Homo sapiens: one gene and its partners. The protein of the gene in region 2 interacts with the protein of the main gene of each other region in a biochemical or structural test. Each region holds a gene or a part of one and is shown on either strand. Other genes may lie near its edges.

Region 1 (7,021 bases), on a different chromosome or scaffold from region 2:
AGTCTTATGTTATAGTTCCTGGCTCATAACTCCCATAACCCTTATTACAGTCTTACGTTATAATGTTGGGGTGCTTTAGGCCTCAGGAAAAAGAATCTCTCTCTCTGACCTTCTTTCACCTGCCTTACCTCTAGTCTGATTGTGGGTCAAAAGACTCTCGTTCCAGAGAGGGTCCTGCCCTATGCCCTGGAGGAGGGCATTTAGCACCCAGAGGCCAAGAAGAATCTGAATAGACTGGCCTTGCTGGGTTTCCCCATTCAGTCTGTTAGAGTGAGGGCATACTCTTTTTGTCCAATCACTTTTCTACATGGTTGTCATTCATGCTTATATAAAAGAAGCAAGCCTCCATAAGAACCCAAAAAGGACAGGGTTTGGAGAGCTTCTGGATAGCTGGACATGTGGAGGCTCCTGGAAGGTGGTGTGCCCCTTCCCCCTGTACCTCACCCTACACATCTCTTTATCCATGTCCTTTGTAATACCCTTTATAATAAATCCGTAAATATAAGTAAGTGTTTCCCTGAATTTTGTGAGCTGCTGCAGCAAGTTAAACCCAAAGAGGGGGACATGGGAACCCCAATTTGAAGCCAGTTGGTCAGAAGTTCTGGAGGCCTAGACTTGCAACGGTGGAGGGTGGGGTCTTGGGGACTGAGCTTTCAACTTGTGGGATCTGATACCGTCTCCAGGTGTAGGGAGTGTTGGAACTGAGTTGGGGGATACTTAGCTGCAAATCCCCCACATATTTGGTCACAGCCTTCTGTGTTGTTACAGTGTGAGAGCAGAGGAAAAACACAGTGTGAGAGTTTTTTCTAAAACACAGGCTAATGTTTATTCATTTAATGTACACGGACTATGTGCCAGGCCCCATGTCGTTGTTACTATTATCACCATTCTACAGATAGGGAAATTGAGGCTTAGAAGCTTAAATGACTTGTCCAAAGTCACACAACTAGAGAGTAGTAAACTCCAAATTTGAACCCAGGAAGACTGGCTCTCCAGGCTCTAATACTTTATGCCTGAATTTTCTTAAATATATCACATTTCAAAATATAGAAATGATATATGGATGAATAGATGAGCTTCCTCTAAGAGATAAAAATTCAATCTAAATTGGCCTTTAATTCAGTGGATATTGAACACCCACTATGTGTTAGGTATTGGGTAGCTCCTAGAAAGCTCAAGATGGTAATGAAGATGTTTGGGGGATGGGTTTTGGAGACTGGCAGAGGGGAAAATGATAGGACTGGGAGATTGGCTTTTCATATGTTTCCCAAAACTTATAACACAGTGGCTCCTTCTGCCTTCCTGTCAGCCTTTCACTGTGGCTTAACCTGCACCCAGGTAGTGAAGGGATGGGGTTGGGGGTGATAGGGATCATTCGTCTGGCTTAAAGTTTCATGTTAGGGTGTGCCAGTGTTCTAGGAGTCACAAAACAAGATGGCATCATAGTTAATACTGTGTGACAGCCTGTAATTTAAAAGAACACTTCATATATGTTATTTGAAACTTTAAGAACCCTTCGAGTTAGGTGGAGGGCACATACTCTCTCTCCTAGAAATGAGGGAAGTGAGGTCCAATTAGGATGAAGTGGCTTGCCTGAGGACATGCTACTGAAAAGTGGCTCTTCACACTAAAAACACTAGTCCCTTCTTTTACACCAAAATGTCTTGACAGTAAATGTAATTTAACATTTTGGTGATTAGGAAAACACTTCAGAATTTTACATTGCCTAAAAGTGATCATTATAGCATTCTTTTGATATAGGAGTATGGAATAAGAGACAGAACTATGAGTTTTAAGAACCTGTTTTAGGCCAGGCGTGGTGGCTCACTCCTGTAATCCCAGCACTTTGGGAGGCTGAGGTGGGCAGATCACCTGAGGTCAGGAGTTTGAGACCAGCCTGTCCAACATGGTGAAAACCATCTCTAATAAAAAATTCAAAAGTTAGCCAGACGTGGTGGCGCATGTCTGTAGTCCTAGCCACTCGGGAGGCTGAGGCAGGAGAATCACTTGAACCCTGGAGGTGGAGGTTGCAGTGAGCTGAGATCACACCACTGCACTCCGGCCTGGACGACAGAGTGAGACTCCATCTCAAAAAAAACAAACCTGTTTTAGAAATTATTTCTTTCAAATCATGGTATGAGCATTTGCCATTTTCCCTCCTTTTTATGAAAGCACAAATTTTCATCATTAATAAATAAGCCCACATTCATAATGGTAAGAATATAATAGCTATTAATACTATAAATATATGCCAGTGCCAATTCTAGACACATTATACATATTAACTTGTGTGTGTGTGTAATTTTTTTAGTCAGTGCTATCAGTCACTGTTAAACTCTACCTGCTTTACTTCATTTAGTCACAAGCACTGTTCCCTTATCATCCCTGTTTCATAGGCGACTGACCCATTTGCACAGCTAGTAGTGGCAGTGCTGGCGCAGTTTTCACTGCATACTCTATTAGCTGACATATTAATAGTAGCCACAGTTTGCGCAAAATTGCTGTTGTACTCCTCCTAAGTCTCCCAGCAGTTTGCCGTTTCGATACTGAGACTGCAGAGGTTTGTGAGGTGCCCAAGACCTGGGTACTAGCTGAGGATGCATGCGCTCCGGTTTTGTCTTCCTACTGAGTACTCTGACTAAAATTTCTTTTTGTCAAAGCCTACTTAGTTGTGATTTCATGCAGGGAGTTTTCCAGGAGCACAGCCCAGGCCAGCCTTGATGTGAGGAAAAGTTCTTTCCCAATTTGGACGTGTAGCTGCTTCCGGGATCTGTTAGTAAAAACAGAACTGCCCTTCTCCGCCAGAAGTGTTGCCAGATGAGATATTAAGAAACATGAAGGATAAAGTGAGATGGTCCAACATTTCTCTAACCAGAGTTCCAGACGAAAATAACAGAAGGGGAGACAGGGAATATTCAAAGATACAACAGCCAAGAATTTTCTAGAACTAATGGAAAAATTGTAGACAAAAGACGTGTATATGAGTTTAAGGATAGCAATAGCTGACAAACAGTACAAACGTTACTTAAACTAAGTAGAGATCTAGGTTCAGCTTTTTAAAAGAAAAAATGTAAAATATGAGGTAGACATATTTTAGACTGTAGAGTAAATGGATGTACCAGGGCCAAAAGGAGCATGAATTGCCTTAAGGGAGAGGAAGGGGGAAGCTAAGGAAACAATTCCTGCTGAAGCAATTGGGTTTTGAAAAAGGTGATCCCAGTAGACAAGGGTCAGGGAGAAAGAATGCTACCTGAAGAGGGAATAGGACATGAAAAGCCCATGTTGCCAAATAAACCCTGAGATCTTTACATTTTGAAGAATGACATTTTACCCTTGCATGAAATGAAAAAGGTATACATAAAAATGTATATAAGAAGTTCTATAAATGATGAAATCTGGTTTTCACAGGGATAATGCCCTGGTAATTTCTATTATGTATTAAAAAAAGCCTTGTGGGATGGGGGTGGGGGAGGGTCCCTAAAACACAAACTTTAGCAGTTCCACCTAACTATTTGGTCTCATTTAATGATAAAATATTTTCGTCATATGACAGGCTTATTATATTTTTTCTAGAATGTCTTTTTTATCTATTTTGTTAAGAACATGAACTTACTGCTGTAACTCATAAATGAAACCTTCCTTTTCAGAATAGCATTGTTCTCTCTTATCATCTTACAATTGAATACAAACCGAAAAGGTGTTGAAAAATTAATCTCTTCTTTCAGCATCTTCTCATTTATCAATCACATGATTCACCTGTGTCATTTGTCTAAATATTGGAGTCATGGTTTGTGCTTTTAGCATAAATATTTAGTGCCAACTCCGTCTCTTTCCTATGTTCTGGGCCCTAGTTTATCTTTCTGAGAGATTGCTAATGTAAAATGTTTAAGTAAATACTGAATGGTCCTGGAATAGGGCCTGATACTTGCATTACTATTAGTTAGTAGAATATTTGTATTTTGATTGTGTTCTCTAGCCAAATTTGTCACATGCGATTCTTCCCAGTTCTTTGCTTTTACTGGCTCTTATAAACACACTTTGACATATATTTAATATCTTGAAGAATAAAGATATCCTGTGATTTTACAGCCTGTCAGTACTATTTTGGGGTATAACAGGTGGGTAACCGAAGGGGAAAAGGCATGTGTGTGCTTAGGGCAGGGAGAGGATCCTTTTATGGAATTGAACGTGCTAAAACATTGGTGAAGTTGTTCTTTCTGTGCACACTTAAGACAGCAGTTAGGATTAGATCTTTCATGAACTTGTATTTCTAAGACCATCCAAATACTGGGAATAGGTCTGTCACTTTCATTTTGCAAAAGTTGGCATCTTAGTTACTGTAATTCATAATAACAACGTTCCCTGGAAGTATAGAACATGTTAAATATACAATATATATTTCTTTATTTTGCCCTTATTCCACAGCTTAGTTTTTTAGTGACTGGGTATATTCATGTGTGTGTATAGTGTGAGTGCATGTGTGTGCAATTGAGTGAAGTGGGAAAGTAGTGCTTCTATAGTTTGATCAGGGCTTTACACAAAAAAGCCACAGAGATTTTCCCTTAAATTTGGGAAAAGACAAAGATACCCCCATGATTGCCACTGTTTAATACAGTACTGAAGGACCTTTTCTTAAAAAAAAAAAAGTAATAGGATTGGGAAGGAAGAAATAAAAACTGCAGATGATATGGATATGATTATTAACCTAGAAGAACCAACAGAATCAACAGACTGAACACTAAAATGAATACATGTAAATCAAGGTTGCCAGTGACAAGATAAACCTACAAAAACAGCACTTCTCAAACCAGTAAAAATCAAGTAGAAAATACAAATTCACAATAGCAGCAATATCCACGAAGACTACTATGAAGAATACATGGGAACTCTATAGATCTGAATAAATGAAGAGACATATATCATGCCTTTAAACAGAGAGATGTTATAAAGATGTCTAATTTCTCTTGTTTTTTGAGAAACACAATAAACTTACCCTAGAATTTATATGGAAAAGTTGGAGAAGTAAAAGTCCATAAATAGCTAAGTTATCTTTAAAGAAGATTGAGGGACCTGCTCTATCAAATATTAAAGTGTAGTACAAGGCTAGTGCTATTAAAAAAAAAAACCCAAAACTTGGCACTGGTATAAGAACAGTTAAATACACTAATGCATGGCATAGAGATTTTAGAGATAAATAGCGAATATACATTCGCTAGGGGAAAGATGGATTGCTTGGTAAATAATGTTGGGGAAAATGGCTATTTGGAAGAAAAAAACAAAACATTCTTACCTAACTGCATGCAGGGGTTGATGCTAGGTGGATTAAAGACATAAATATAAGGAAGGTAGAACTATAAAGTTAATAAGAGAAAATATAGGAAAATAGGACCAAAGGGTGGGGGAAGACCTTAGGTCAAAACTTCAAAAGCATACGCCATAAGGCAAAAAAAAAAAAAAAATTGATCGCATCAAAATAAGAGTCTCTCTTTAGTGCAAGACATCCCAGACGTGGTTCATATATGAGAGGATGAGAGATGGTTGCAATGTCTGTAACCAACAAGAATCTCTTGAGTATACAAATCAACAAGGGAACAGTAACTCCTGTTTAAAAATAGAAAAGCAAAATAGGAAAAGTCTATGAATAGGCTAACAAGGATACAAAGAGATGTCTGAAATTATTAGGAAAACACAAGTTAACACTGACATATCAGTGTATTTCTGTCACACTGGCAGCAAATAGAAAGTTGGAAAATGCAGAATGTTGGTAGGGATATGGGGACCCCTGTGCTTTGCTGTGGAGAGTGGATAGGTACAGGTGTTCTGCAGAATAGTCATAATACTAAGTCAAAAGCAGAGTACACATACCCTTTGTCTTAGCAGTTCTGTCCTGGTATATGTCCTAAGGAAATCCTCACCAAGGTCCAAAGGGGAGATGTATTCATAGAAGTGTTATTTGTAGTAATGAGAAGCTGGTAGACAACCTAAGTGTCCATCTCTGGGAGAGTGGAGAGGGAAAATCAGGTAGGTATACACATGGAGTATTATACAGCAATTAGCAGCAACTGATTAGAAGTACACATAGGGGGCTGGGTGTGGTGGCTCACACCTGTAATCCCAGCACTTTGGGAGGCTGCGGTGGGCAGATCACTTGAGGCCAGCAGTTTGAGACCAGCCTGGCCAACATGGTGAAACCCCAGGAGTTTGAGACCAGCCTGGCCAACATGGTGAAACCCCGTCTCTACTAAAACTACAGAAATTAGCCGGGCCTGGAGGCTGAGGCACGAGAATCACTTGAAAGCGGGAGGTGGAGGCTGCGGTGAGATTGTGCCACTGTGCTCCAACCTGGGTGACAAAGCAAGACTGTCTCAAAAACAAAAAACAAACAAAAATCTAGCAACCTGGATGCTAAGTGAAAAAATAAAAACAGAATGAGATATAAATTCAAAATATACAAATAATACAGATCTTGTAAAAAACAAATAGTATTAATTAGATAAACACGAAAGAATGATTGCCTTATGAGCTGGGAGGAAAATGGGAGAAAGGCAAGTGTATAGAAAAATGAAAGAATTTTAAAGCAGAAATGAAGAATTTTTGAAAAGTTTGGTGATCTTTAAACTTGATTTGGGTTGAATGAGAGATAAAGAAAATTAATAGGAAGAACATCCTGCATACAATAACCGTTTTGTTTTCCCAATTTCTATAGGGTTGAAGCTTTGAGAGAAGCAGCAACTGCTGTTGAGCAAGAGAAAGAAATCCTTCTGGAAATGATCCACAGTATCCAAAATAGCCAGGACATGAGGCAGATCAGTGACGGTGAGAGCCATCTCCACAGAAGGGGCTCATCTTTTACACTCCTTTAAAGAGTTTATGATAAGTGTGGGTCAATTTTTGCTTGACTTTTGGTATGCGTACACCAGGCCACAGCATTTAATGTGAGCCACAGAGAGCAGCTGCAGCTGTCAGTTCATTACAGCAGCCACTTACTCAGAGATTTCTTCCAGCATGCTCTCTACCCCAA
Region 2 (7,021 bases):
TTGCAACACTGCACTCCAGCGACAGAGCTAAGACTCTGTCTCAAAAAAAAAAAAAAAAAAAAAAAAAAAAGAGGCAGCACACAGACTCCAAGGTTCTAAGCCCAGCTCATTCCCTAACTCGTTCCATGGGCTTGCACAAGAAGTCACTCAACCTCCTCGGGCCTCAGTTTCCATATAAATAAAACGGGAAAAGTAAGATAACTGTGAAGATGAAATGACAGCACAGTGCCAGGCACACAGTTCAAGCTTAATGACTGTGTTCCCCAGAGCAGCACCCCCAAGAGCTCCCCTGCACTCACTGGGGTCACAGTCATTGATGTCCTGATCGCAGGAAGGGCCAGTGTACCCTCCATGGCAGGTGCAGCTGAAACTCCCTGCCAGGTTGGTGCAGATACCATGAGGGCCACAGGGTGCGGGGCCAGCACACTCGTCCACATCCTGCTGGCATCGTGGGCCTGGGGGTAGGGAGCAAGGTTACACCTAGGGTTACAGGGTACAGAGCAGGGTCTCAGGGACCTGGGGCTCAGGAAGAACCTGCAGGCCGAGATGGGTGAAGGCAAAATAAGCCGTGCTGTCATTCGTGTCTGGGCATTTTGCATATGCAGTTTCAGAATGGCCGTCTCCCTGTCTCAGTAGGTGGCAAATACCTACTATGAGGTCTGCTCCTCCAGGAAGCTGTACCCTAAACCCCGCCCTAAGTCCCAGCATCTCTAGCCCCATAACTCTTCCTCTTCCAAGGGCTGACCCACACAGGCTGCATATCAGTGTCCAGCTCTGTCCTTCCAAGAAGGAAGCCCCTCTCAAAGGCAGGGCTGGGGATGGGTCCCTCTCTGGATCCCCAGCATCATCCCTGATAGGGTAGGGGGCAGAGGAGATGGAGAGGAGGAGGGAAGAGAAGCAGGTGGCATACCTTGCCAGCCCTGGGGGCAGGAGCAGACAGGCAGCTGGCCAGGGGCAGACTCGCAGCGGCCCCCATGCTCACAGGGGTTCGGGGTGCAGGGGGAGAGGAGTTCACACTGACGTCCTGTTGGGGGTGGAAGAGAGGGAAGCAGAGATAGCCTTGAGGGACTCCCTGATCCCATCTCCCCCCACCTCCCCCAACCCCAGGGTCCCCACCTTGATACCCACCTCCCAAGCTCCTGGAGGGAAATGATTGAAAGCAAAAAAGAAGCTAACATAGCGGGAGGAGAGAGTAGAGGAGAAGAGAGATGAGAAGGCCCATGGTGTTGGTGGGGCTGCAGAGGGAAGGTGAGGTACACACCCTGGACACCAGGCGGGCAGGTGCAGTGGAAACCCATTCCATCGCTGCTGCATGTCCCACCGGCCCTGCACGGCTGGGACTCACAGGCGTCTCGGGCCAGGCTCTGGCTGCAGCGGGGGCCACTCCAGCCAGGCTCACACACACAGCGGAACCTGGCAGGGGAAGGTAGTCAGGCCAGGGAGGTGGGCCAGGGAGAGGGGGCAGTGTCTGAGGCTGAGAAGGGCCCTCACCCGCCAGGTGCATCATAGCAGATGCCGTGACTGCAGGGCTCATGGGCACAGGGATGGCTCGGGGGGAGGCAGAGTGGGGGCAAGGAGCCAGGCGGGCAGAGGCAGCGGAAGCCATTTTCCCCATCCACACAGGAACCTCCCTCGCCGCATGGGCTGGAAGCACACTCATTGATCTCCACGTTACAAAGGGGCCCTGGGGAGTACACAAGCAATCTCATCTCAGAACAAAGTCAGCAGGGACAACCAGGGAGGGACGACGTGACCCCACTTAGCACACCCACACCCCCGAGCAATGACCTCTTTTTCATAACGCATCAGCTCTTGTGCAGATTAGGACACCCGCCTCCTCAACCAAGAGCTGACTTGCCCCAGATCATTCTGGTCCCCAAACTTCCATGAAGTCCCTTTCTTTTTCTTTTCTTCTTCTTCTTATTTTTTGAGATGGGGTCTCACTCTGTCGCCCGGGCTGGACTGCAGTGGCATGATCATAGCTCACCACAGCCTCCACTTCCTGGGCTCAAGCGATTCTCCCACCTCAGCCTCCCGAGTGGCTGGGACTACAGTTGCGCACCACCACGTCTGGCTAATTGTGTGTGCATGTGTGTGCGTGTTTATCTACGTATTGACTAATCTGGCTTTGGGAGTGTGTTTATTTTTTGTAGAGACAGGGTTTCATTATGTTGCCCAGGCTAGTCTCGAACTCCTGGGCTCAAGTGATCCTCATGTCTCAGCCTCCCAAAGTGCTGGGGGATTACAGACATGAGCCAACACACCTAGCAAAGTCACATTCATTTCCACTAAGGATTAGTTTAGACCCATTCAGAAATAACCTAGTCACTGAGTTTGGACACTTTCATCTATGTTCCAGAATAATCTTTTTGTTTGTTTTTGTATGTGTGTGTGTGTGTGTGTGTGTGTGTGTGTGTGTGTGTGTTTGAAATGAAGTCTCACTCTGTCGCCCAGACTGGAGTACAGTGGCACAATCTTGGCTCACTGCCGCCTCCGCCTCCTGAGGTCAAGCAATTCTCCTGCCTCAGCCTCCCGAGTAGCTAGGACTACAGGCGCCCACCACCACACCCGACTAATTTTTGTATTTTTAGTAGAGATGGGGCTTCGCAACGTTGGCCACGCTGGTCTCGAACTCCTGACCTCAAGTGATCCACTTGCCTTGGCCTCCCAGAGCGCTGGGATTACAGGCGTGAGCCACCGCGCCCAGCCTGCAGAATAATCTCGAAACAACCTTATGCCAATGAGACAGCACAGACTCAGGGCAAAGCACGGACAACCTCGTTGGACAAGAGTCTGCAAAGATACGGGCAAAACAGGCCCACAGAGACGAGTGACTTCACCCTCGATCTAAGGACCCCCTCTCATGGCAGCCACTTGCCCACCTGTGAAGCCAGGTTGGCAGACACAGTCGTAGCGGTTGATGCCATCACGGCAGACTCCAAAGGTGCAGGGGTTGCTGGCACAGTCGTCAATGTTCACTTCGCAGTTCACACCTAGGGGCCAGGAACATGGCATGGAGTGGCCACCACTGTGCCCCACTAGATGCACCATTCCCAAACCCTCTGTGCCCCTCCAGGTGTGCTGTTTCTGCCCCAGCCCCCGGTCCCACCTGTGGTCCCAGAAGGGCAGCGGCAGAGGTACTTGTCCACCAGGTCTAGGCATTTGCCGCCATGGCGGCAGGGCTGGCTGCGGCATTCGTCCACCTGGCTCTCGCAGCGTGTGCCCGTGTAGCCAGGAGCACAGGCACATGAGAAGCTGGCGATGCCATCCACGCAGCGACCATGGTGGCATGGGTCAGGGGAGCAGTCGTCCACGTTGCGATCACACAGCGTGCCCTCAAAGCCTGTGGGGCCAAGAGGGTCAGGCTCCGCCCACTTGCCAGGGGCCTGCCCACAAGTGAGGCCTCGGACCAATCCTGGTTCAGCTCTATCTGAGGCCCTGCCCATCAAGCTGTCAGGAGGCGAGCTCAATACAGGCCCCACCCCCCACCCCCCACTTACTTCCACTCCACCCCACTACAAGCTCCAGAATTTGTCCCTAGCCAAGACTCTCCCACAGTTAAATCCCGCCCCCAGCTGTGGCCCCACCTCCAGCCCTGTTTCTGCCCCACCCTCCACTGGAGATGGGAGCACATGGCAGGTGCCAGGGGAAGGTATTGGGCCCTCCCCATTCAGTTACAGGCACCCTGTGCCCAGCCCAACACTTTGGCTCCACACGTAGCCTTATGTCAGTCTATATGCATTATTGGCTCCACCCCCCAACTCTGTCACTGGGTCCTGCCTTGCTACAACCCCGCCCCCAAGCTCTCCCCAAGTCTGTTATTGGCCCTGTCGCCCACAAGCCCCGCCTCCTGATTCTTGTCGGACTGTCATTGGCCCGCCTCACCCTCGGCACAGCGGCACTCGTAGCCATCGGGCTGGTCCACGCATTTGGCGCCATTCCTGCAGGGCGTGCTGGCGCATTCGTCCACGTCCAGCTGACACGTGGAGCCGCTGAAGCCTGGGGTGGGGAGTGGGATGAGCAGAGGCCCAGAAAGGGTGAGAGCAGTACACCCCTCTCCAGCCCCGCCTTGTTTGGGTGGAAAAACCCATTTACTTGGATTTAAATTAACTTCAATGTTTCATAACATATGGTTTCTATTGTAAGTTATCCGCTAACGTGGTTTTACAGGTTCCCACCCTGGAGTTTTTGCCCCTTCCCAGACATGTCTTTTCGGGCTCCCTCTCCTGAGGTCCTCACCCGAGGGGCAGGTGCAGCTGAAGCCATTGACTCGGTCCTTGCAGACCCCACCGTTGACACAGGGGCTACTCTGACACTCGTCAATGTCCACCTCGCAATAGGTTCCTGTGAAGCCTGGGGCAGGGAATAGGGCTTAGGAAAGCGGGGGCTACCCTATGGTGTGAACGGGGTGCAAGGAAGGAGGTACTTCCCTTCCTACTCATCGACAAATCCCCCGAGCCTTCGTCCCCACCTCTACACTCCCAGCCCAACCTTAATTTTCAGCCACAGGCTGGACTGTCACCCAGCCGTGGTCCCAACTGGCCCAAGGCTCATGGGTGTCCGCAGAGGCCTTGCCTTCAAACCCCTCCTCCTCTCCCCAGTCCTCAGACTAAGCCCTTTCCCCAGTCCCCAGCCCCCAGCCCCAGGGCCCCCCATAGCCTTTGCCCAGGCTTACTGCAAGCTTGTCTGCAGGCTTCACCTTGACCTCACAGCAGCCCCGACTCTGCCTCTCTATCCCCAACCCCTTCCCGAGTGGGTCCTAAGGCCAAGAATACTCCCAGCCCACCTGAGGTTCTACTGACTCCATTTGACCAAGCCCCCAGAATCACACAGTATTCCCTTCTGGTCCTGACCCCACCTCCTTCCAGGCTTCAGTCTCTAAGGGTCCCACTCCAAACCCACTTACACCCCATTCTGCTCAGCTCCCCATCCGCGGGCTTCTCTGTCCCCGCCCCCTGCCTCAGGACCCGCCCAGGCCACGCCCACCACCCACCTGCCATACAGATACAGGTGAACTGGCCTATGCGGTCGAGGCACGTGGCCTGGTTTCGGCAGGGCCCCGACAGACACTCGTTGACATCGGTCTCACAGCGAGGTCCAGTGTAGCCACGACCGCACTGGCACAGGAAGGAGCCCTGCGTGTTCACGCACCTGCCCAAGTGCTCGCAGGGGTTGGCGCCTGCCGGATGGAGTGCGATCGGTGTGGGCGTGGCTGGCCGGGACCCCCTCCTCTCCCCTCTTTCCCAGCCCATTCACAGACGATGGAGCTCCCCTCACCGATAGAGCACTCGTCCACATCCTGGTCACATGCCCCACCCGTGAAGCCGGGAGGACAGGTGCAAATGGCCCGGCCGTTCACCGGATTTGTGTCACAGATAGCATCCTCGTGGCAGGGGTTGCTGACACAGGCGTCATCCAGGTGACACAGGAGGCCTGGGAAGTGGTAAGCAGAAGTCATAGGCAGATCTTCCTGCTCTGCCCAAAAGGCCCACACCCCTTGAGTATTGTTTTGTCGTTGTTGTTGTTTTGTTTTGTTTTTTGAGACGAAGTTTCGCTCTTGTTGCCCAAGCTGGAGTACAATAGCGCGATCTTGGCTCACTGTAACCTCCACCTCCCAGGTTCAAGCGATTCTCCTGCTCAGCCTCCCGAGTAGCTGGGATTACAGGCATGTGCCACCACGCCCGGCTAATTTTTTGTATTTTTAGTAGAAACGGGGTTTCACCAAGTTAGCCAGGTTGGTCTCAAACTCCTGACCTCAGGTGATCTGCCTGCCTCAGCCTCCCAAAGTGCTGGGATTACAGGCGTGAGCCACCGCGCCCGGCCTGTTGTTTTTATTAAACCTAAACAGTATTTAGTAGCTGCTTTTTTAATCCATTTATTATGAGAACTATCAAACATACAGAAAAGTTGACCATTCATATACCCACCACCTAGATTCAACTATTGTTAGCTTAATCTACCAATCTTCTTTTCTAAACCATTTAAAAATAAATTGCAGACCGGGCACAGTGGCTCACGTCTATAATCCTAGCACTTTGGGAGGCCAAGGTGAGTGCATCGCTTGAGTTCAAGAGTTCAAGACCAGCCTGGGCAATATAGTGAGACCCGTCTCTACAAAAAATACAAAGCTTAGCCGGGCATGGTGGCGCACGCCTGTAATCCCAGCTACTTGGGGGACTGAGGTGGGAGGATCACTTGAGCCCAGGAAGTCGAGGCTGCAGTGAGCTGAGATCATGCCACTGTACTCCAGCCTGGGTGACAAAGTGAGACTCTGTCTCAAAAATAAAATAAAATAAATTGCAAACATCCACATATTGTTTTAAAACCTTTTGACTCTTCTGATTACAAAAGGGTCCTACACTCCAGCCTTTGCTTCTGTAATACCCTCTGCCATGTATGCCCTCTTTCTATATCCACGTTCCCCTCCTAAACATGTTCTCTGATCTTTGCCACTTCCAAAGGTAACTCCCAGGAGTTCCCCATTCCAATGGCTTCTGCCCTGAGCCATGCATCAGTGCAATGTCAGCCTCCTCCCAAGCCTCTCCCAGGCTTACACTTCCCCACTAAAGCTGCCTCCAGCATCATCTTTTTTTCTCTCTCTTTTTTGTTATACACGGTCTTACACTGTCTCCCAGGCTGGAACGCAGTGGCTCAGTCTCAGCTCACTGCAACCTCCACCTTCTGGGCTCAAGCCATCCTTCAACCTTAGCATCCAGAGTAGCTGGGACTACAGGCATGCGCTACCATGCCCAGCTAATTTTTTGTATTTTTGGTAGAGATAGGGTTTTGCCATGTTGCCCAGGCTGGTCTCAAACTGCTGAGCTCAAGCAATCTACCCGCCTGGGCCTCCCAATGTGTTGGGGTTACAGGCGTGAGCCACCACACCCAGCCTACCAAGTTTTTGTAGAGATGACAAAAACTCACTATGTTGTCCAGGCTGGTCTCAAAGTCCTGGGCCCAAGCGATCCTCCCATCTTGGCCTCCCAAAGTGCTGGGATTACAGGCATGAGCCACTGTGCCC
Region 3 (7,374 bases), on a different chromosome or scaffold from region 2:
CTTCAGCTGGCAGATTACAGGGCTCTGACTCCTTGTGGGTGTGGGGCTTGGGCAAAGGGATGCCTTCCTATCCAGTGGCCCCCTTCCCCTTCCATCCCTGACACCCCATTGACTTGTGCTAACAGCTCTTTGCCCCACAGGTGTGACAAGCCCCGCCAAGACAGACCTGCAAGTCTTCGTCTCAAGGGACCTCCCTCATGCCAGGCCCCTGCCTCTCACAGCAGCACCCTTTCCTCTCATTGTCCCTGTTCCCTTTTTGCCTGTGGATCTGTTTGGCCAGGGTCCCTGGGGTCAGGAATATTTGCAAGACTCAGCCAGCTCCTTCCCAGCCCAGCCTCTTGGGGCTGGGACTTTCTCACCCTGCGGCAGGCACAACAGATGCTGGGACCCAGTCTCTGCCCAGGTCACAGCACAAGTGCACATCAGCACTATGGGGCCTATGTCCTGCCCAGAGACCTCTGCTCCTTCCTGCTCACATCCACAGTCAGGGCACGGCGCCCCTCAAGAACTCCAGAGTCACCTGTCTCATCGGCTCCCAGCAAGTGCCTCTTTGTCTATGATGTCCCCCTTCTCTGAGGCCTGGACCCACCCATCTTTGTCCCTGGGGCCTGCTCCCAGCCACTGAGGCCCGCTCTGGCCAGGGGAGAAGGAGCTGCCGTGCGTCTTCCCTGTGCCCCGTCTCCCTGCTTGGTTCTCCCCTCCCTTCCCTGGCCGGCTGCCATGGCCAGGAGCTAAGTGCCTTTTTGTGTGCAACCACTTACCCTTTCTCTGAAAAACCTGTTCTCAGGAAGGATCTGATAAACTCATTTACTCTCAGGTGTAAGAGACTGATGAGACCTTAGAAGCGAATTCCTCTCTGGAGGCCTTGCTTTCTAGCAGAGGTCACCTGAAGTGTGTGAGGAGGATCATCATTTTCCTCATCCCCCCTCTTCTCACATTAAGGTGGTGGCTTGCCACTCAGCAGTCCTAGCTTGGTGACTGGGAACTGCCACATACAGGGCCAGGCCTACCCTCCTTCCCCACAAGCCCCCTCCAACCCCCACCCCCATGCTCTGGACCTCATGGCTCCTATGAGCTTGGAGCATGGTGAACCATCAGAGAATCTAGAACCAACCAAGCTAGGAACATCAGCCTGGTGCCCTGTTAACCCCTTAAAGCTGTGGTTTACAACTTTTCAAAAATTTAAATCATTAGAACTCTCCATCTTGATTGACTGCCCTAGTTTTACCCAGAATCAGCTGGGGATGTGGCCAGGTGCAGAGCCCCCTGCCCATTCCCCCTTTGCATGCCTGGGGAAGCTCCAGGTCTTTTTGGAACACGACCCTTAACACGGCTCCTAAGGGGGTATCACCAGTCCAGTTCCCCAAGTGTGTGGGGGATGAGCCCTAGCCCTACTCTGTGACTCTGGGTGAGGGCTCCTCAGATCTGTGCCCCAGGGGACAGGCCCTCAAAGTGCCATCCGTGCTCAGGTCCCAGTGCCCCAGGCTGACCCACCTCTGGTCAGTGAGTCTCCTGTGCCTGAGTGAGGGATATCGGGACCTGGGGTCCCTGCCCCGAGCACCTCCCACCCACTGCTAGTGCTGGGGCTTTGTGAGTGTTCCAACTTCATAGCCGAGAGTTGGAGGACAAGGCTGGGGCAGGGCCGAGGAACGGATTGAGTCCTGCCTAAGCCTCGGGACATCTAAACAGCTCTGGCTCTGCCCAGACCTCAGGTGTGACCCTGAGCCATTTTCCTTCTCTGAACTTCAAGCAGATGACCTCAGAGAACTTTCATATGTTCATGCCATGATAGGTGAACTTTTCCAGTAAACAAAACTGTCCCCACACAGAGGAGAGGCTCCTGGAGGCCTTCACCTGGCAGGGCCTGACCGTGGAGTAAGAGCCTAGGAAGACACTGAGGGGCCTGTTCCTGCAGCTGCAGCCTCAGCAGGGCCCTTCATGCCTGCACCCCCCTCCCCTGGGGTGCCCAGTGAGGGCTGACTGCTAGGGGAAATGTCGGGGTGCTACAGCACAGCCCCCTCCCCTGTGAATCCAGCACGTGAGGGCCCTGCCCTCGTTCCTACTGGGGACGCAGCCAGTAAACAAGGAGACCAGGGTGTGCCCAAGATGACCTCAGCTGGGGATAGATGAGTGGTAGCGACTGGGTGTCCAGGCGGGTGGGGAGGCCTCTGGATGGGTGACATTGGGCACCTTCTGGAGACAGAACAGGGCTCCCACACACCACTCCGGGCTGCACCCTCCTGCTGTCTTGCCACAGGGGCCCTGTGCCCCACAAGTGGCCCGTCCTATTGTGGATCCTCAAATTTACATGCACTGTTTCAGCATAAGCCTCCCATTCCACTCTGGCTTTGTTTTCTCTTTACATCCCTTTGAAAGGACAGGGATATAAAAAAAAAATGGGCTAAGAGTAACCCTACTATGCCCAGGAGTGGCTGCTGCATGGGGGCTGGATTTCCTTATCTGAGAGGCTGTCTCACAGCGCTCTGAACGAAGCTCCTGCCTTAGAACAATTCGAAGCCATACACGTGTGGCCTGTGACACCAAGGATCTACTGGGCTTTTCCCATGGGGCTCAGTAGTGACCTAGGTGCCCAGATCCCTCTTCTAGGCATCCATGCAAATAAACCGTGGTCTGTTTGAAAGGTTATTGGGCTTACAAGGAACAGTAACCCACCCTCAAGTTAAAAAAGGGTTTGGGAAAAGTAATTCCGAATTCTACGTTACTCCAGGCCAGGACCCAAGGCAAGGCTGGGCCCTGCTTCGTGGGCTAGAATGGGAGAGAGAGATGATGGGGCTCCCCCCACTTTCTTGACAGCCTGACTCCTTCCTCACTATCCCTCGGGAATCTGTCCCCTCCATCTGCCTGTCTCTCTACAAAGTGCCCCTGCTTCCCTGTGGTGGTCCTCAGTCCCACAATGCTGGCCAGCGGGCGGTTGGCTTCAGCTTGCCCTGCCACAGATGTGCTGGCAGTGTGGAGGCCCACGTGGCAGGGCAATCAAGGCCACTGGACTCAGAGGCCACAGGGAACTATGGAGGGGATGGAGTCAGCTGAGTGATGGGACAAGAGTCTGACAGCAGCATGGGTGTGGAGCAAATGGCAGTCCCCTGCGCAGAGGACCCTTTCAAGGACATTAGTGGTGGAGGCAGCATAGTAGCTCCCAAGGCAGAGGGATTGAGAGAAGAGTTTGAGGACTGGGAAGGCGGGACACATGATTGGGTGATGGGAGAAGGGGGCAGAGAATAGCGAGATTGCTTTCTTTGCCCACGGAGAAACAGAGGAGTGTGGATCATGAATGGGCAAGATCTTTAAGTGCCAGGGGGGGTCATGGAGGAGGGGAGGGCCTGCTCCAGAGGAGGACCATTCCTGCTTCAGAGCCAAGCAGGACCTAGGCTGTGAAGATTCGGAGAAAGAGATGGAGGGGAGAGTCAGCTCAGCTGCTTACTGGCTTGCTTTCCTCCTGTCTCTTTCATTTTCATAATCTACCAAACCCTGCAATGGGCCAGCCTTGAACATACAAGTGCATGTGCATGGTCAGACACAGGCAAGCAAGCAAGACCCCTAGGCCTGACCTATGCATCTGCAATCTAGTAGGTTTAGCAGATCATAGCCCCGCACTGCTTGATTTTAAAGCCGTTAGGGGATGACCTTTGACAGTCCGCATCACCCCTCTCACACAACGAGCGCCTGTTCAAGGTTCTTGACTGGAAGTTCTACCTTGTATCTGGCCTCCTGTAGCAGTTTCAGTCCATTCCCTGTGAGGAGGGTGTGCCACATGGCTTTGGGGGTCATGGAGAAGACCCACCTTGCAGATGTCCTCACTGGGGCTGGCAGAGCCGGCAACCTGCCTAAGGCTGCTCAGTCCATTAGGAGCCAGTAGCCTGGAAGATGTCTTTACCCCCAGCATCAGTTCAAGTGGAGCAGCACATAACTCTTGCCCTCTGCCTTCCAAGATTCTGGTGCTGAGACTTATGGAGTGTCTTGGAGGTTGCCTTCTGCCCCCCAACCCTGCTCCCAGCTGGCCCTCCCAGGCCTGGGTTGCTGGCCTCTGCTTTATCAGGATTCTCAAGAGGGACAGCTGGTTTATGTTGCATGACTGTTCCCTGCATATCTGCTCTGGTTTTAAATAGCTTATCTGAGCAGCTGGAGGACCACATGGGCTTATATGGCGTGGGGTACATGTTCCTGTAGCCTTGTCCCTGGCACCTGCCAAAATAGCAGCCAACACCCCCCACCCCCACCGCCATCCCCCTGCCCCACCCGTCCCCTGTCGCACATTCCTCCCTCCGCAGGGCTGGCTCACCAGGCCCCAGCCCACATGCCTGCTTAAAGCCCTCTCCATCCTCTGCCTCACCCAGTCCCCGCTGAGACTGAGCAGACGCCTCCAGGATCTGTCGGCAGCTGCTGTTCTGAGGTAAGGCTCGGGCAGGGCTCTGGGGAAGAGGAGAGCAGAGAATGGACGGGGAGATGTGAGGGTCTTGGGCCCTGGCATATTTACCCAGAGTCTGCCTGTGTCCGCAGAAGTCCATGGCCCCTCCTGGTGGAGGCCACACTTCAGAGGACAGGTTGCCAGGTCTGGGCTCCAAGATTGGTACAATAGAGCAGAGAGAAAGAGAGAATCCCATGGTAGCCATTGGAGACTAGGGTTGGAGTCCTGGACCTGCCACTAAAGATGTAGAGTTTAAACTCTTGGATGAGTCACTTTCCCTCCCCAGGCCTCAGTTTTCTCATCTGTAGAGTGGGCTAAATATTTGCTAGGCCTCTGCCTGCTCTAAATACAATGAGGCTCTAACCAACAGAGACTCCCCTAAATTGCTTGTTCCAGGCCGAGGGTCACCTATACCTTTCCAGTCAGGTCCTTCTTGAGTCCCAGGGAGCAGAGCGAGACTGCAGCCCTGTCAGTCAAGTGAGTCTCCTGGTCATATTCTCAAGGCTAGGAACTCAGAAACTGTCCTGGAAGTACTGAGAACGACCAGATGTGCAGGGTCCTCTGCAGCGCCTCTCCAGGCCAACGCGGGAATTCCATTTGATGCCGCTGACTCAGTGCCATTCCCTCCCAGAGCTGAGCTGAGCTCCCAGACCCTGAGCTGAGCTGCACTTGGGGGGCAGATGGGGAAAGGCCCCACTGGGAGAACCTGTCCTTGGGTGTGAGCCCAGCTGGTTGGCATTAAAGGGTTTAACCTGGGCCCCCGTAAGTGTAACCCTTGTCCCATCCCACCCCAACACCCCATCTTGGGACAAGCCTTGCTCTGTGCCCAGGAGTGGTAGAGAAAGATTCCCTTGGTTTCTAGTTTCTCCTGGGCAGGCTGAGGACTATTCAGGGAGGGGGTTGCCTGGTGTGTAAGGAATTTCAGAGCACATTCCTGGCCTGCTGTAGCCGGGAAGCTACCTGCCCTCCCAAATTCCTTTTCTGACCCATGTCTTAGAGGGCGAATCTTCCTTCTCTCTGCAAAAGTGGAATCTGAGAGGATCAGGTTGCTGGCTGCCTCCTATTTCTGACCCCCACTTCCACTCTTCCTGCCCTCTCCCCATCCCCTTACCCCCGCTCTCCTGGTGGGCTAACAGCTGTTGGCTTAGGAAAATCCCATTCGAGTGCTGGGGACAAGGACTGAGGGGTGGGGCCTGTGTTTCTCAGAAACTCGGAGACTGTTTCTACAGGGACAGAACTCAAGGCTCTCCTGCTTTGTAGTTGGTTAACTGAAGTCAGAGAGGCTAGGTGACTTAAATAAGGCCACACAGCAAAATCTGGGTTTTAAGCCCAGATTTTTTGACCCCAAGGTCAGTATGCCTTATGCCTTCTATTGTCTTTGCTTTACTCCCCAAGAAAGGTGACCCTGTGAACGTGTTAGGCTTCCAACACGTGTTGGCTATGAATGCATTAGGCTAGAAAGCTGCCTGTGGAAGTGGGTGGGACTTGGGTGTGAGGACACAGGTGTTTCAGGACATTCTGGTTCCTTGCCCTGCCAGGTTCTTGACTCTCTCCCATTCTGCAGCCCCCAGTCTCAGCCCACCTCTTTCCCCTGCATCAGGTCCTGCCTTTGAGCCACTGGCATGGTGGTGTCCTCTGGGCTGGCTGAAAGCCCTCCTCCATCCTGCATGTCTGCATGCTATTTTTGGGAGCTGGATGGTGCCCCCAGGAACAGGGAGAGGAGTCCAAGCTGCTCTGTCCTCCTGTGAGGCCCCAGCACCATGCCCAGTGGCTCTGAACTGGTGGAAGGGCAGAGTAGGAGAGGAGAGAGAAAGCTAGAAGCTATGCGCCCAGGCTGGCCATGCACGGTTCCTCTGAGAATTTTCTCCCTCCCACTGAGGGACAAGCTTCTCCTGGGGCTCAGGTAGGAGCTCCTCAAGTTCTCAAGTCACTAGTTCTGGCCGCTCCCCTGGGGCTTTGGGTAACAATTGTCAGCCCCACCCATCCTAGGGTTAGGAAGGCTATTCTCTTTGGCCACTCTCATCCTAAGACCTATTTGGAGAACCTCTGGGGTTTGAGTCTTTTTTTCAGCAGAATGAGGCTTGATCCCGCATTATAGCACCTCGCACATTTGATGTCTCTTCTTCTCACCCACTCACCCCACCCTGGGGGTTGGGGCAAAAAAGTGGCTCAGAGCTGCGGTTCAGAGCTCCTTGTAAACAAGGCTCCTCCCTCACTGTCCTCACCCTGCTCCAGCAGAGGGAGCAGCGGAAGGACCACTCTGCTGCAGCCATGCTTGTTTCTAACCCAGCAGAACTGGACATAATGGGAACAGGGTCTGAAGACAATCAATCCAGGGCTGCAGTGGGTGCTGAGTCTGGGGAAGCCTCCACCTGGAGGGGCAGCTGGGCAGTGGCAGCTCCCTTGGAATGGCTCAGCCTCTGGACATCACCCCACCCAACCAGAGCCCTGGCTCTTGCTGGATGTCCACAGATGAGTGCCTGGGATTGGTCTCAGCCACTATGGGGGGGATGTGCAGGGAGAGGTGATGAGGGAGTGAGCAGGACTGTCTATGTGCCTCTGTCCTCATCCTGAGGCTTGGGTCTGAAATTGGTGCTGCAGCACTGGCACGCGTGAGTGGGGCAGGAGGTGGGCAGCAGGGGAGGAGCATTGGAGGGTGGTCCTGAGCATCATTTGGATTCTTCTCCCGCCTCACTTTAGCCTCACTCTCACATCACCCTGTCCATTCTCTCCCTTGGAAGCCAACATCAGGAAGGCTGTGGAGCTGGCATATTGCACTATAACAGAGGCTGCTGTTCACGTTTCAAACAACGTGATTGTGTCCCTGGAGCAGTGCACTGTCATGGCCCCGGAGGGTTGGGTCATAGTAGTTATTAGCTGAATGCCTACACTTCACACTACCTCTGTTCCTCACACCTACCCAAGAAGAGCAGTAATTTCACAGCAAA

The links. Proteins that work in one complex are often made in the same cells at the same time.
Region 1: the proteins of NOTCH3 (region 2) and BAG2 form a complex in vitro, tested with the Homo sapiens proteins (one study listed by BioGRID).
Region 3: the proteins of NOTCH3 (region 2) and TNNT2 form a complex in vitro, tested with the Homo sapiens proteins (one study listed by BioGRID).

What each region holds. Positions count from the first base shown.
Region 1 is NC_000006.12:57,175,326-57,182,346, forward strand, and holds part of BAG2 (BAG family molecular chaperone regulator 2), read left to right. Parts: intron 1-6,706; coding exon 6,707-6,816; intron 6,817-7,021. UniProt on the Homo sapiens protein: Co-chaperone for HSP70 and HSC70 chaperone proteins. Acts as a nucleotide-exchange factor (NEF) promoting the release of ADP from the HSP70 and HSC70 proteins thereby triggering client/substrate protein release.
Region 2 is NC_000019.10:15,183,996-15,191,016, forward strand, and holds part of NOTCH3 (neurogenic locus notch homolog protein 3 precursor), read right to left. Parts: intron 5,434-7,021; coding exon 5,278-5,433; intron 5,180-5,277; coding exon 4,994-5,179; intron 4,354-4,993; coding exon 4,240-4,353; intron 4,000-4,239; coding exon 3,886-3,999; intron 3,344-3,885; coding exon 3,110-3,343; intron 2,994-3,109; coding exon 2,883-2,993; intron 1,685-2,882; coding exon 1,492-1,684; intron 1,414-1,491; coding exon 1,262-1,413; intron 1,025-1,261; coding exon 911-1,024; intron 456-910; coding exon 300-455; intron 1-299. UniProt on the Homo sapiens protein: Functions as a receptor for membrane-bound ligands Jagged1, Jagged2 and Delta1 to regulate cell-fate determination.
Region 3 is NC_000001.11:201,374,660-201,382,033, reverse strand, and holds the start of TNNT2 (troponin T, cardiac muscle), read left to right. Parts: upstream 1-4,353; 5' UTR 4,354-4,411; intron 4,412-7,374. Other genes in the region: LAD1 (ladinin-1), read left to right, coding at 141-146. UniProt on the Homo sapiens protein: Troponin T is the tropomyosin-binding subunit of troponin, the thin filament regulatory complex which confers calcium-sensitivity to striated muscle actomyosin ATPase activity.